Linked DNA regions of Homo sapiens. The protein of the gene in region 1 purifies or fractionates together with the protein of each later gene. This does not show direct contact. Each region holds a gene or a part of one and is shown in the gene's direction. Other genes may lie near its edges. The genes, in order: IFI30, DAPK1 and FAM120A.

Evidence for each region.
Region 2: the proteins of IFI30 (region 1) and DAPK1 purify together in Homo sapiens (affinity purification with mass spectrometry; 5 studies listed by BioGRID and IntAct, with this or other methods). This does not show direct contact.
Region 3: the proteins of IFI30 (region 1) and FAM120A purify together in Homo sapiens (affinity purification with mass spectrometry; 3 studies listed by BioGRID and IntAct, with this or other methods). This does not show direct contact.

What each region holds. Positions count from the first base shown.
Region 1 is NC_000019.10:18,171,878-18,175,625, forward strand, and holds the start of IFI30 (gamma-interferon-inducible lysosomal thiol reductase preproprotein), read left to right. Parts: upstream 1-1,935; 5' UTR 1,936-1,964; coding exon 1,965-2,096; intron 2,097-3,162; coding exon 3,163-3,345; intron 3,346-3,433; coding exon 3,434-3,508; intron 3,509-3,727; coding exon 3,728-3,748. UniProt on the Homo sapiens protein: Lysosomal thiol reductase that can reduce protein disulfide bonds. May facilitate the complete unfolding of proteins destined for lysosomal degradation. Plays an important role in antigen processing.
Region 2 is NC_000009.12:87,495,694-87,499,441, forward strand, and holds the start of DAPK1 (death-associated protein kinase 1), read left to right. Parts: upstream 1-2,173; 5' UTR 2,174-2,414; exon of another isoform or gene 2,415-2,679; intron 2,680-2,888; exon of another isoform or gene 2,889-2,943; intron 2,944-3,276; 5' UTR 3,277-3,384; coding exon 3,385-3,446; intron 3,447-3,748. UniProt on the Homo sapiens protein: Calcium/calmodulin-dependent serine/threonine kinase involved in multiple cellular signaling pathways that trigger cell survival, apoptosis, and autophagy.
Region 3 is NC_000009.12:93,454,630-93,458,377, forward strand, and holds part of FAM120A (constitutive coactivator of PPAR-gamma-like protein 1), read left to right. Parts: intron 1-3,748. UniProt on the Homo sapiens protein: Component of the oxidative stress-induced survival signaling. May regulate the activation of SRC family protein kinases. May act as a scaffolding protein enabling SRC family protein kinases to phosphorylate and activate PI3-kinase.

The sequences.
Region 1 (3,748 bases):
AAGTGCAGAAAGAAACCTCCACTCTGACCCAGTCTACTGCTGGGACCTTGGGACAGGACCTGCCTCCCTTAGCCTCAGAGCCCCCTAGCCTTGCCAGGCACTGTCCCTGCCATGTGTCCTGTCTGGAGATAACCCATAAATAACTCCAGCCCAGATTGTGCCTCTCACTGCATAGGTGCTCACAGGAGAAAGGTTGCCATCTTTATGATCCCAGCTATGCTGAGCTGGGGGTGGAAGAGAATATCCCGTGTGGTCTCTAAAAACACTCAACCACTGGCTGTGTGTCCTTGGCAAAATAGCCTTCCCTCTCTGATCAGCCATTTATTTGTTACCAGCTGGAGTCAGTAGCACCTACCCCCAGCCCCAACTGGATGCTTCTGAGGGTTCAATGATAAAATGGGTTGTAGGCCCACTCTATGCCTGGCACCAAGCCAGAGAGCAATACATTGTAGGGTTACATTTATGATTTCTTCCAATAGGGCTGGTGCCTGGTAACTACTGGAAAAATTGTAGCAATTATATTTATGGTTATTTCTTCAATCCCACCCGGCATAGGGTAAGCACCAAAGTTGGGGTGGTGAGTCTTGGGGAGCCTTTGCCAACGGTTTGGTCGTCTGAGGGATGGGCTCGGGGACCATCCAGCCACTGGGACTTCAGAGAAGCTCCGGCTCCCAAACCAGCTACTGTGTGTGTGGCCAGGGTCTTCCCCACAACTAGAGGGGGGCACAGCTGGGGACTCAGGTATATCTTCCAGCTGGGTGTGGGACATTTTCTTCCCTAGGATCCGATGTGTCTTGCCCTGAATGTAAGGCCTGGCAGGGTTGGAATGTCTCAGTTATTCCCCCAACACTCCAGCCTCCATCTGGGCCTTTTTTCCAGGCTATTCTCTCTGCCTTCACTGTTGGGGCCACTGTCCTGTGTAGGCACCAAGGCCTGACCATGCCATCCAGAAGCCCCAGCCTGGGACAACTCTCCCCCACCTGCCTCTGAGCCCTCCATGGTGACTCTTGTTCCCCAAACCTTATCCTTCTCCCCATTACACAGAAGGGAAAGCTGAGGCTCTGTCACTCAAATCCAAAGCCAGGTGGACTCCAAGCCACCCCACCCCTATCCCAGACAGCACAGGCTGCCTCTCTCCCCCATGGGCGTCCCTTGAAGGCCAGGTTGCCCCCCACCCCCCACAAGCCTTGAACGATGAAAAGAAGGAAGGCCAGTTCTCTTCACCCCAAGCCAGAAGTGGGGCTGGGTGGGTACCCTAGAGAAATGACACGCCACTCCCTGCGCCAGCTTCTGCTTTCCGGCGTGGCTGTGGTCAAGCCTGAGTCAGTCCCACGGGACCACGGTGAGGGGTCTGGAGCGTCGGGGTCAGGAGTTTGAGGGGGGAAGGGTTGAGGGGCAGGATGTGGGGGTTGGGTGTGAGGGAGGTCACGGGCGAGACTGGAGGGAGGAGACCTGGCCACACAGGCCTTGCCCACTCTCGGGGGCCTGAATATTTCAGTTACTCCCCCAAAACCCCGGCCTCCATCCCATCCCCAGCCTCCATCCGACGTCACCCCTGTTAGGTCACAGGCCCACTCTGAGAGTGGGTCTCGGGCCTCAAGTCCCCTAGCCGCCCCTAGAAGGTCTAGGGGTGCGTGGAGACACCACCATTCCTCTCAGCCTGTGTCTGTCTCAAAGGCCCCACCTCACCTCCCCTAAAGGTAGTCTTGCGCCAGGGCTCACGTGCCTGGGCAGGGCTGATTGCCAAGGGGCCCAATGGCCTCGTGACTGGGGACCCAGCACCTGGCAGGGGTGGGGGTGGGACACTCAGAGGAAGGAGTGGAGGAGGGAGAGACGCTGGCCCGGGACCCGAGGGGCGTGGGCATCGGGAGGCGGGCCCGGGTTAGGGGCGGGACCGCCGCCTGGTTAAAGGCGCTTATTTCCCAGGCAGCCGCTGCAGTCGCCACACCTTTGCCCCTGCTGCGATGACCCTGTCGCCACTTCTGCTGTTCCTGCCACCGCTGCTGCTGCTGCTGGACGTCCCCACGGCGGCGGTGCAGGCGTCCCCTCTGCAAGCGTTAGACTTCTTTGGGAATGGGCCACCAGTTAACTACAAGGTAGGGACGGCGACAGGGCGGGCAGGCTGGAGGGAACAGGCGCCCTGTCGGGGCACGCGGCTCCTTCTTTCTCCCCAGACTTCACAGGGGAAGACCAGGGCCCCGAGGGGACGCTGTCCCTGCCGGGTTCCTGGAAAAACCCTGTTCAGTTCCCGGCGCTGCGGCCACACTCCCTCCGTGCCGTTTCGCTTTCGCATCCCGCATCTGAGAGGCGCAGCTGCCTCCACCCGCCTAGTCCCGCCCAAGGGTTCAATGAGCGCCTACTGTGTACTTTTGGGGCAGGAGCTGGGGTCTCCTTTTGTGGCCCAGGGCACAAGTTCAGCAGCTGGCCAAGGGCCGCCGGCATGCATTCTTGCTGCTACCCTTGATGCATTCATTCCAGCCAGGGCAGGGCTCGCGTGTCTTTGGGACCTATTAGGCAGATGCCCTAGAGGCTGAGCGACTTGCTCACCGCTCCAGCGACATGGGCCACCCGCCACCCCTCAGCTGAAGCCGGAAGTCAGCACCTATTAGGTGCCGCCTCTATTCAGTCGGACTTGGAAAGGGTTCACGTGGATCCCTTGCTCAGCTCAGAGGCAAGGTCTCCAGGTGAAGTGACAAGAAATGAGCATGGGCCAAGGCCGGAGGCGGTGGCTCATGCCTGTAATCCCAACACTTTGGAAGTCTGAGGCAGGCAGATCACGAGGTCAGGAGTTCGAGACCATTCTGGCCTACATGGAGAAACCCTGTCTCTACTAAAAATACAAAAATTAGCTGGGTGTGGTGGCATGTGCCTATAATCCCAGCTACTCAGGAGGCTGAGGCAGGACAATTGCTTGAACCAGGGAGTCGGGTGTTGCAGTGAGCCGAGATCGTGCCGCAGCACACCAGCCTAGCGACAGTGAGACTCCATCTCAAAAAAAAAAAAAAAAGTCTCAAAGTCAAGATTCCACCTGGCAAGTTCTGGAAGGCGTGCAAGATGAATTGCGTATCACAGCCCCCTTTCTACAAGACTACCAAGTGGGGTTGAGAGAAGTGGGGAACTGCCCAGGGCTACACCTGCCTCCCACGCCTTCCTAATCCACAGACAGGCAATCTATACCTGCGGGGGCCCCTGAAGAAGTCCAATGCACCGCTTGTCAATGTGACCCTCTACTATGAAGCACTGTGCGGTGGCTGCCGAGCCTTCCTGATCCGGGAGCTCTTCCCAACATGGCTGTTGGTCATGGAGATCCTCAATGTCACGCTGGTGCCCTACGGAAACGCACAGGTGTGTGGGCGCTGGGGAAACTGAGGCACGTGGGCAGGGGAGCAGGGGACCCAGCCTACCAGCAGGCTCTCACCCTGCTGCCTTGCAGGAACAAAATGTCAGTGGCAGGTGGGAGTTCAAGTGCCAGCATGGAGAAGAGGAGTGCAAATTCAACAAGGTGGAGGTGAGCGGCCCCAGGGCCCCACACTGGGGTGGGGGAAAACTGTCCCACGTACAGGAGGCAAATACGAGGATGCCAGCTCTGTCTTCTGCCTCGTGTGCTCCCATTTAATCACATCTTTATTCCCTATCTCCTGGGTGGGTACTGGTGATTATTACGAGAGGGTGTCAGGGTACCCTAGGCCCTCTTCATGCCCTCTCCTGCCCCCTCTCCAAACCCCAGGCCTGCGTGTTGGATGAACTT
Region 2 (3,748 bases), on another chromosome or scaffold:
ATTTTTTCTCCCAACAGATGTATTCATTTGCATTTTCCCAGATGAATCACTCTTTTTTTGTTGTTGTTGTTATTTTTGACTGTATTTCTCACCTCTCAAGACCCTTTTGTATTATCAAGCCCACTGCTTAAGCTAATACCATCTCCCAATTTGGGGACTTCCCCTTGATTCCTGTGTGCCCTTCCTGTGGGTCATTAATGCAATGTTATTTAAGACTAGGATTTGGCTGGGCGCAGTGGCTCACGCCTGTAATCCCAGCACTGTGGGAGGCCGAGCCGGGAGGATCACCTGAGGTCAGGAGTTCAAGACCAGCCTGACCAACATGGTGAAACCACGTCTCTACTAAAAATACAAAATTAGCCGGGCATAGTCACATGCCTGTAATCCCAGCTACTGGGTAGCCTGAGGCAGGAGAATCGCTTGAACCCGGGAGGCGGAGGCGGAGTTTGCAGTGAGCCAAGATTTCACAACTGCACTCCAGTCTGGGCCACAAGAGCGAAAACCCGTCTCAAAAAAAAAAAAAAGACTAGGATTTGACATAAGGCCTGAGGGGTATTCTTTTGTTTTGTTTTGCCTTGTTTTCAAGAGGCCAAAATCTTCACAGTTGAAAATTTCTGTTGAACCACAGAGATTTGAACCAACTCAGTTTAGAAAGCCTGGGGATTTGAACAACGGTATGGATCGGAAATCTCTTCATCTGTCAGTTTTCATCATTCTAGGCAGTAAAATAGATTTCCCTTTAGGAGCTTTTCACCGTTTGGGGTTCTCCAGCAGTGGGATGTGGGGAATCAACCCTTCTTCGTCTCCACCCAAACATTAGGTGGGAGCAAGGGGTGGGAAGTAGAGAAAGTGGATAGAGGTCTCCAGTGGATATGGGATCTTTGTGTAGACCAGCACAGTCCTCAGAAATCTCATGCAAGCAACATAGGTACTGTTATATTTTCTAGTGGCCACCTTTTAAAAAGTAAACAGGTGAGGCCGGGCGCGGTGGCTCACGCCTGTAATCCCAGCACTTTGGGAGGCCCAGGCGGGCGGATCACGAGGTCAAGAGATGGAGACCATCCTGGTCGACACGGTGAAACCCCGTCTCTACTAAAAATACAAAAATTAGCTGGGCATGGTGACGCGCGACTGTAGTCCTAGCTACTGGGGAGGCCGAGGCAGGAGAATCACTTGAACCCTGGAGGTGGAGGTTGCCACGCTCCACTACACTCCAGCCTGGCGACAGAGTGAGACTCCGTCTCAAAAAAAAGAAAGTAAACAGGTGAAATTAATTTTAATAATATATTTTGTTTAACCCAACGTATCCAAAATACTATCATTTGAAAGTGTAATGAATATAAAAATATTCATGAGATATTTTTCATTCTCATATCCATACTGTCTTGGACTCTAATGTGTATTTTACACTTACAGCACAATTAATTTGGGACTAGCTACATTTCAGCTCAACAATAGCCAATAGCATATGGGATAGCGCAAATAAACTCTGCGTCTCTGTTGCTTCTTTGGGTCTCGGAGACCTCAACCCTTTCTTCAGATTGCAAACCTTCTTGCCTTCAAGCCTCGGCTCCAACACCAGTCCGGCAGAGGAACCCAGTCTAATGAGGTACGCTCCCTTCCTGCCATTCTCTATTCCATTAACCTGTTTCGTGGTAAACGTAGGACTGATCCTCCAAAATTACCTTATTAATTAGCTTACATATTTATTATCTATCTGTCCCACCAGAATGCAGGTTTCCGGAAGGCAGGGATTTAAAAAAATCTGTTTTGTTCTATGTGATTTTCCCATACCAAGCACCGTGCCCGGCACAAGCTGGGATCCCAGTACACATCTCGGGACGGAAGAACCGTGTTTCCCTAGAACCCAGTCAGAGGGCAGCTTAGCAATGTGTCACAGGTGGGGCGCCCGCGTTCCGGGCGGACGCACTGGCTCCCCGGCCGGCGTGGGTGTGGGGCGAGTGGGTGTGTGCGGGGTGTGCGCGGTAGAGCGCGCCAGCGAGCCCGGAGCGCGGAGCTGGGAGGAGCAGCGAGCGCCGCGCAGAACCCGCAGCGCCGGCCTGGCAGGGCAGCTCGGAGGTGGGTGGGCCGCGCCGCCAGCCCGCTTGCAGGGTCCCCATTGGCCGCCTGCCGGCCGCCCTCCGCCCAAAAGGCGGCAAGGAGCCGAGAGGCTGCTTCGGAGTGTGAGGAGGACAGCCGGACCGAGCCAACGCCGGGGACTTTGTTCCCTCCGCGGAGGGGACTCGGCAACTCGCAGCGGCAGGGTCTGGGGCCGGCGCCTGGGAGGGATCTGCGCCCCCCACTCACTCCCTAGCTGTGTTCCCGCCGCCGCCCCGGCTAGTCTCCGGCGCTGGCGCCTATGGTCGGCCTCCGACAGCGCTCCGGAGGGACCGGGGGAGCTCCCAGGCGCCCGGGTGAGTAGCCAGGCGCGGCTCCCCGGTCCCCCCGACCCCCGGCGCCAGCTTTTGCTTTCCCAGCCAGGGCGCGGTGGGGTTTGTCCGGGCAGTGCCTCGAGCAACTGGGAAGGCCAAGGCGGAGGGAAACTTGGCTTCGGGGAGAAGTGCGATCGCAGCCGGGAGGCTTCCCCAGCCCCGCGGGCCGGGTGAGAACAGGTGGCGCCGGCCCGACCAGGCGCTTTGTGTCGGGGCGCGAGGATCTGGAGCGAACTGCTGCGCCTCGGTGGGCCGCTCCCTTCCCTCCCTTGCTCCCCCGGGCGGCCGCACGCCGGGTCGGCCGGGTAACGGAGAGGGAGTCGCCAGGAATGTGGCTCTGGGGACTGCCTCGCTCGGGGAAGGGGAGAGGGTGGCCACGGTGTTAGGAGAGGCGCGGGAGCCGAGAGGTGGCGCGGGGGTGCCACCGTTGCCGCAGGCTGGAGAGAGATTGCTCCCAGTGAGGCGCGTACCGTCTGGGCGAGGGCTTCATTCTTCCGCGGCGTCCCTGGAGGTGGGAAAGCTGGGTGGGCATGTGTGCAGAGAAAGGGGAGGCGGGGAGGCCAGTCACTTCCGGAGCCGGTTCTGATCCCAACAGACCGCCCAGCGTTTGGGGACGCCGACCTCGGGGTGCCGTGGTGCCCGGCCCCACGCGCGCGCGGGGCTGAGGGGTCGGGGGCGTCCCTGGCCGCCCAGCTTTAACAAAGGGTGCTCCTCTCCACCCCGCGAGGAGGGGCAGCTCCGGAGACCCGGTCTTCAGCGAGCGGGGTCTTAGCGCCGGGGAGGTCTACTTCCTTTTGGGGTTGCCATTTTACTATTATTATTGCCTTTTTTTTTTCTTCAAAAGGACTGGAGACTGATGCATGAGGGGGCTACGGAGGCGCAGGAGCGGTGGTGATGGTCTGGGAAGCGGAGCTGAAGTGCCCTGGGCTTTGGTGAGGCGTGACAGTTTATCATGACCGTGTTCAGGCAGGAAAACGTGGATGATTACTACGACACCGGCGAGGAACTTGGCAGGTAAAGGGGGTACCAGAAGCGTACCCTCCTGGATTGTGGAAATGCATAACGATGGGGCCATTGGGTGGTAAACAAATGCAGTTTGAATCAGGCGTCTCCCTCGCCCTTTCTGGAGATGCGCAAATCATAGAGAAAAGAGTTACTAACCCAGCGGTAAACCGCCTGATCCAAGGGCCTGGGGGTGGAGGAGAGGCAGCAGTTCAGGGCTAGATTATGATGCACAGTATATTGATCCAGTCCCCTGGACAAAATCAGATTTAATTGTCCGTGCTAACTCTTGTCAGCCCTTGCCCTTCTGTGAC
Region 3 (3,748 bases), on another chromosome or scaffold:
AAAAAGCAAACATAATTCTGGGGCTATTTTAAGAAAAGGAAAACAACCCTATGTACTTCCTTGGTCCCTGAGGGTAGTACAATGTTTATTCTATAAGGATGATTTTGAGTCATAAAAATTAATATTCAGCATTCTCTGTTTAAGGGATTGAAACAGTGTATACCATTTAATAAAAGATACCCATAAAGTGGTTAAAACGTTTAAAACCATGATATCACTACATGCCTATTAGAATGGCTAAAAGAGAAAAAAATATGAGCAATACCAAGTGCTAGCAAGAATGCTGAGCAACTGGATCCTTACACATTGCTTGTGGGAATGCAGAATGGCACCACCACTCCAGAAAACAGTGGCACTTTCTTATAAAGTTAAACATACATTTATCATACGATCCAGCAATTCCACTCCTGGGTATTTTCCTAATGAAGACTTTTGTTTGTGCAAAAACTGGTACTCAAATGTCCATAGCAGCTTAATTCATAATAGCCCAAACGTGGAAACAAAGTATCCTTTAATAAGTGAATGGTTAAACTACAGTATAGCCATACTATGGAATACTACTTAGCAATAATAAGGAAGGAATTGCTGGTGTAGGTAACAACTTGCATGAATATTTAATTAAGGTTTTATACTGAGTGAAAGAAGCCAGGTTCAAAAGGGATGATTATAAAACTATAGTGATAGGGACCAATTCAGTGGTGCTGAGAGTAGAGGAGGGGAAGGATGTACACATAAAGGGGACAGCAGGAGAGATCTTTGTGGAGTGATGGAACTGTTCTGTATTCTGATGGTGGTGATGCTACCATACATTAAAATCAGAACTATTCATCCAAAGTAAATGTGTTAATTTTATCATATGATAATTTTTTTAAGATTAAGTAAAAACCACTGGCAAAGGAATTGACATGAACAATTCAGTATATATAATGTTGAGTAAATGAGACATTTATAAAAACTTTAAGCATCTTATTGGTGCTTTCTAGTGTTTTGTAAATTGGCAGAGGGGCATAATTTCCTGTTACCTTTGCTTAGAGAAATCTTTTTTTTTTTTGAGATGGAGTCTCACTCTGTCTCTCAGGCTGGAGTGCAGTGGCGCGATCTCGGCTCACTGCAACCTCCACCTCCTGGGTTCAAGCGATTCTCCTACCTCAGCCTCCCTAGTAGCTGGGATTATAGGCGCCTGCCATCATGCCTGGCTAATCTTTGTATTTTTAGTAGAGGCGGGGTTTCACCATCTTGGCCAGGCTGGTCTTGAGCTCCTGACCTCGTGATCCACCTGCCTCGGCCTCCCAAAGTGCTGGGATTACGGGCGTGAGCCACTGCGCCTGGCCAGGAGAAATCTTTTTTGATTTAGAGATTATTTCTTTTACAGAGTAGTAATTGTATTTTTTTGTTCAGTAGTAGTAATTGTATTTCTTTAACCATTAGAAGTTGGTCTACATGGAAAGACAGCCAGAACAATGAAAATAATAATACTTTGGCCTATGTATTGACTAGTTTTGTGTAGGTCCTAAAATAGCCTAATTTGAACTTGGCTTTAGCTAGTTACTTGGACAGTGTTTCTTCTTGTGTGCCTTGGGTCATTATAACCTTTGAAACTTCAGTGAATGACTTATGTTTATTTTAAAATCTTAGTGGCATGAAGTCACTGGAGCTTTCATAAATGTTTCTGCTATATGACTTGTGGTATCAGTGTAAGGGTTTATAATAAAGTCCTTCAGATCTTCTGAATTTGCTTCCATTGGAATTTTGTTAAATAATGCTCTTACATAAAATGGCGTTCATGCTATAAGTCAGTGGAAGAATGTGAGGTTAGACTATGGTTTAGAATTTTCATGGTTAGCATAATTACATGTTTGTATTTAGAGATGATGGTCTCCCTTCATGTATACTTGATGGGGGAAGAGAATGAACTGGTATCAGACCAGGTGCTTGCTAGATCCTTTCTCACATATTCCATCTCATTTAATCCTCAGAGTGCTTTGTTACCCCATTTTTCATGTGTAAAAACAGGATCTAGTGATTAAGTGACATCTGGGGACAAGTCATTAGTAACCTCAAGACGGAAGTGGAGTGCTAAAGTCAAAGTTCAGCTTCTTTGTGTAAGAATACTTTGTGGGTGTGCCTACCTACAATTCTCACCCCCAGGTCAATTACGATAGCTAACTGCTTCAGCTATGTTTTCTAGTTAGGATAGGAACAGTCATGTTGCTATTCAGAAGAAAAATGTCCATCAGTAGATCCTGGACACTGACAGTACATCTTATTCTTAAGGACCTTTAATTGACTGGAAGATTTTTAAGGTTCAAAACTGACCATATTATACCTCAAACTAGTCACTGTATATATTTCTCTGTTGTACTACTTTTGTCACTAGTTTAATTCACATAGCATAATGTCTTCAAGCTTCTTTCATGTTGTAGATTGTGTCAGAATTTCCTTAACTTTTAAGGCTAAGTAATACTCCACTGTGTATATGTACCACATTTTGTTTATCCATTCATCCACTGGTGGATACTTGGGTTGCTTCCACTTTTTGACTATTGGGAATAATGAATAATGCTTCTATGAGCATAGTATACAAAGAGCTGTTCGAGTTCCTGCTTTCAGTTCTTTTGGGTATATACTCAGAAGTAGGATTGCTGGGTCATATGGTAATTCTGTTTTTCTTTTTAAGGAATGGCCATATATTTTCCACAGTGGCTGTGTAGGCCATATATTTTATGTCATAAGTTATATAATATATATTATTATAATATAGTTCCATTTTTTCACATTAATGTGATTGCACTATACGTTATTCAGCAGTTTGCTTTTTTATTTGTAAGAAATCTTTCCATGTCTATACTTAGAGCTCTAAGTCTTTTCAGTCCCTAAATAGTATTCCATAATTTATCCAACCCCGACAGATGGTATACACATGATATATACACACAGTAGAGCTAAAGGTATGCACATTTTAAAAGCCACGTAGGACCATAGAGTCAACATTACCAGAACTTCAGACTTTGCAAGAAAGCCAGAAACCCAGATTTTTAAAAAAATTATTCCATTTTAAAAATGCCAAGCGAAGGAAAACTTGGTTCTAAGTTAGCTTCAGCTCTTGTGCCACCAATTTGTTATTTGAGCACTGATCTTTATCAACAATTATCATGGTCATCTAAATCTCTTCCTTTTTTTTTTTTTTACTTTAAAATTAAACCTATCAAAAACCACTCTGTCTTTTCCTGTCTGCCTCCTTGAACCTTTTTCAATGATCAAAATGCTTCCATTTCCTGGGGTTACTGCAATATGATGTTTCCTTAAATGCCACAATCCTCTTGGCCACTTCCATAGTATATTCTTCATTATATACTTCTCAATATTACATATTTTGAGGTGAGTGCTAACCCACATGTTTATTTGACATCTCACCATTTCCAAGGCACAGCCTCACTGTCCTCAAACACTTCAGCACCTGGTTTTACATTCTTATATATTATTTATACTGTGTCCCATCAACACAGACACTGACTCTTCACCTCTCTCATCTGGCATCCTGATTCTGCAACTGGAGTGAATTTCTAATTGCACTTTAGATACTCCAGAGCTTGGACCGTATAATTAGTGAGAAAAGTGACCCCACCTTTAACACTTCTGAACGCTGTGTCCCTGTCACTCCTTGCCGCTCCCACCGTCTGTCCCCTGCTTGCCTTCCGCCATTTCTCTTTTCCCATTCTGTTGGCTTCCTTTTTAGCTGTAACTAGCT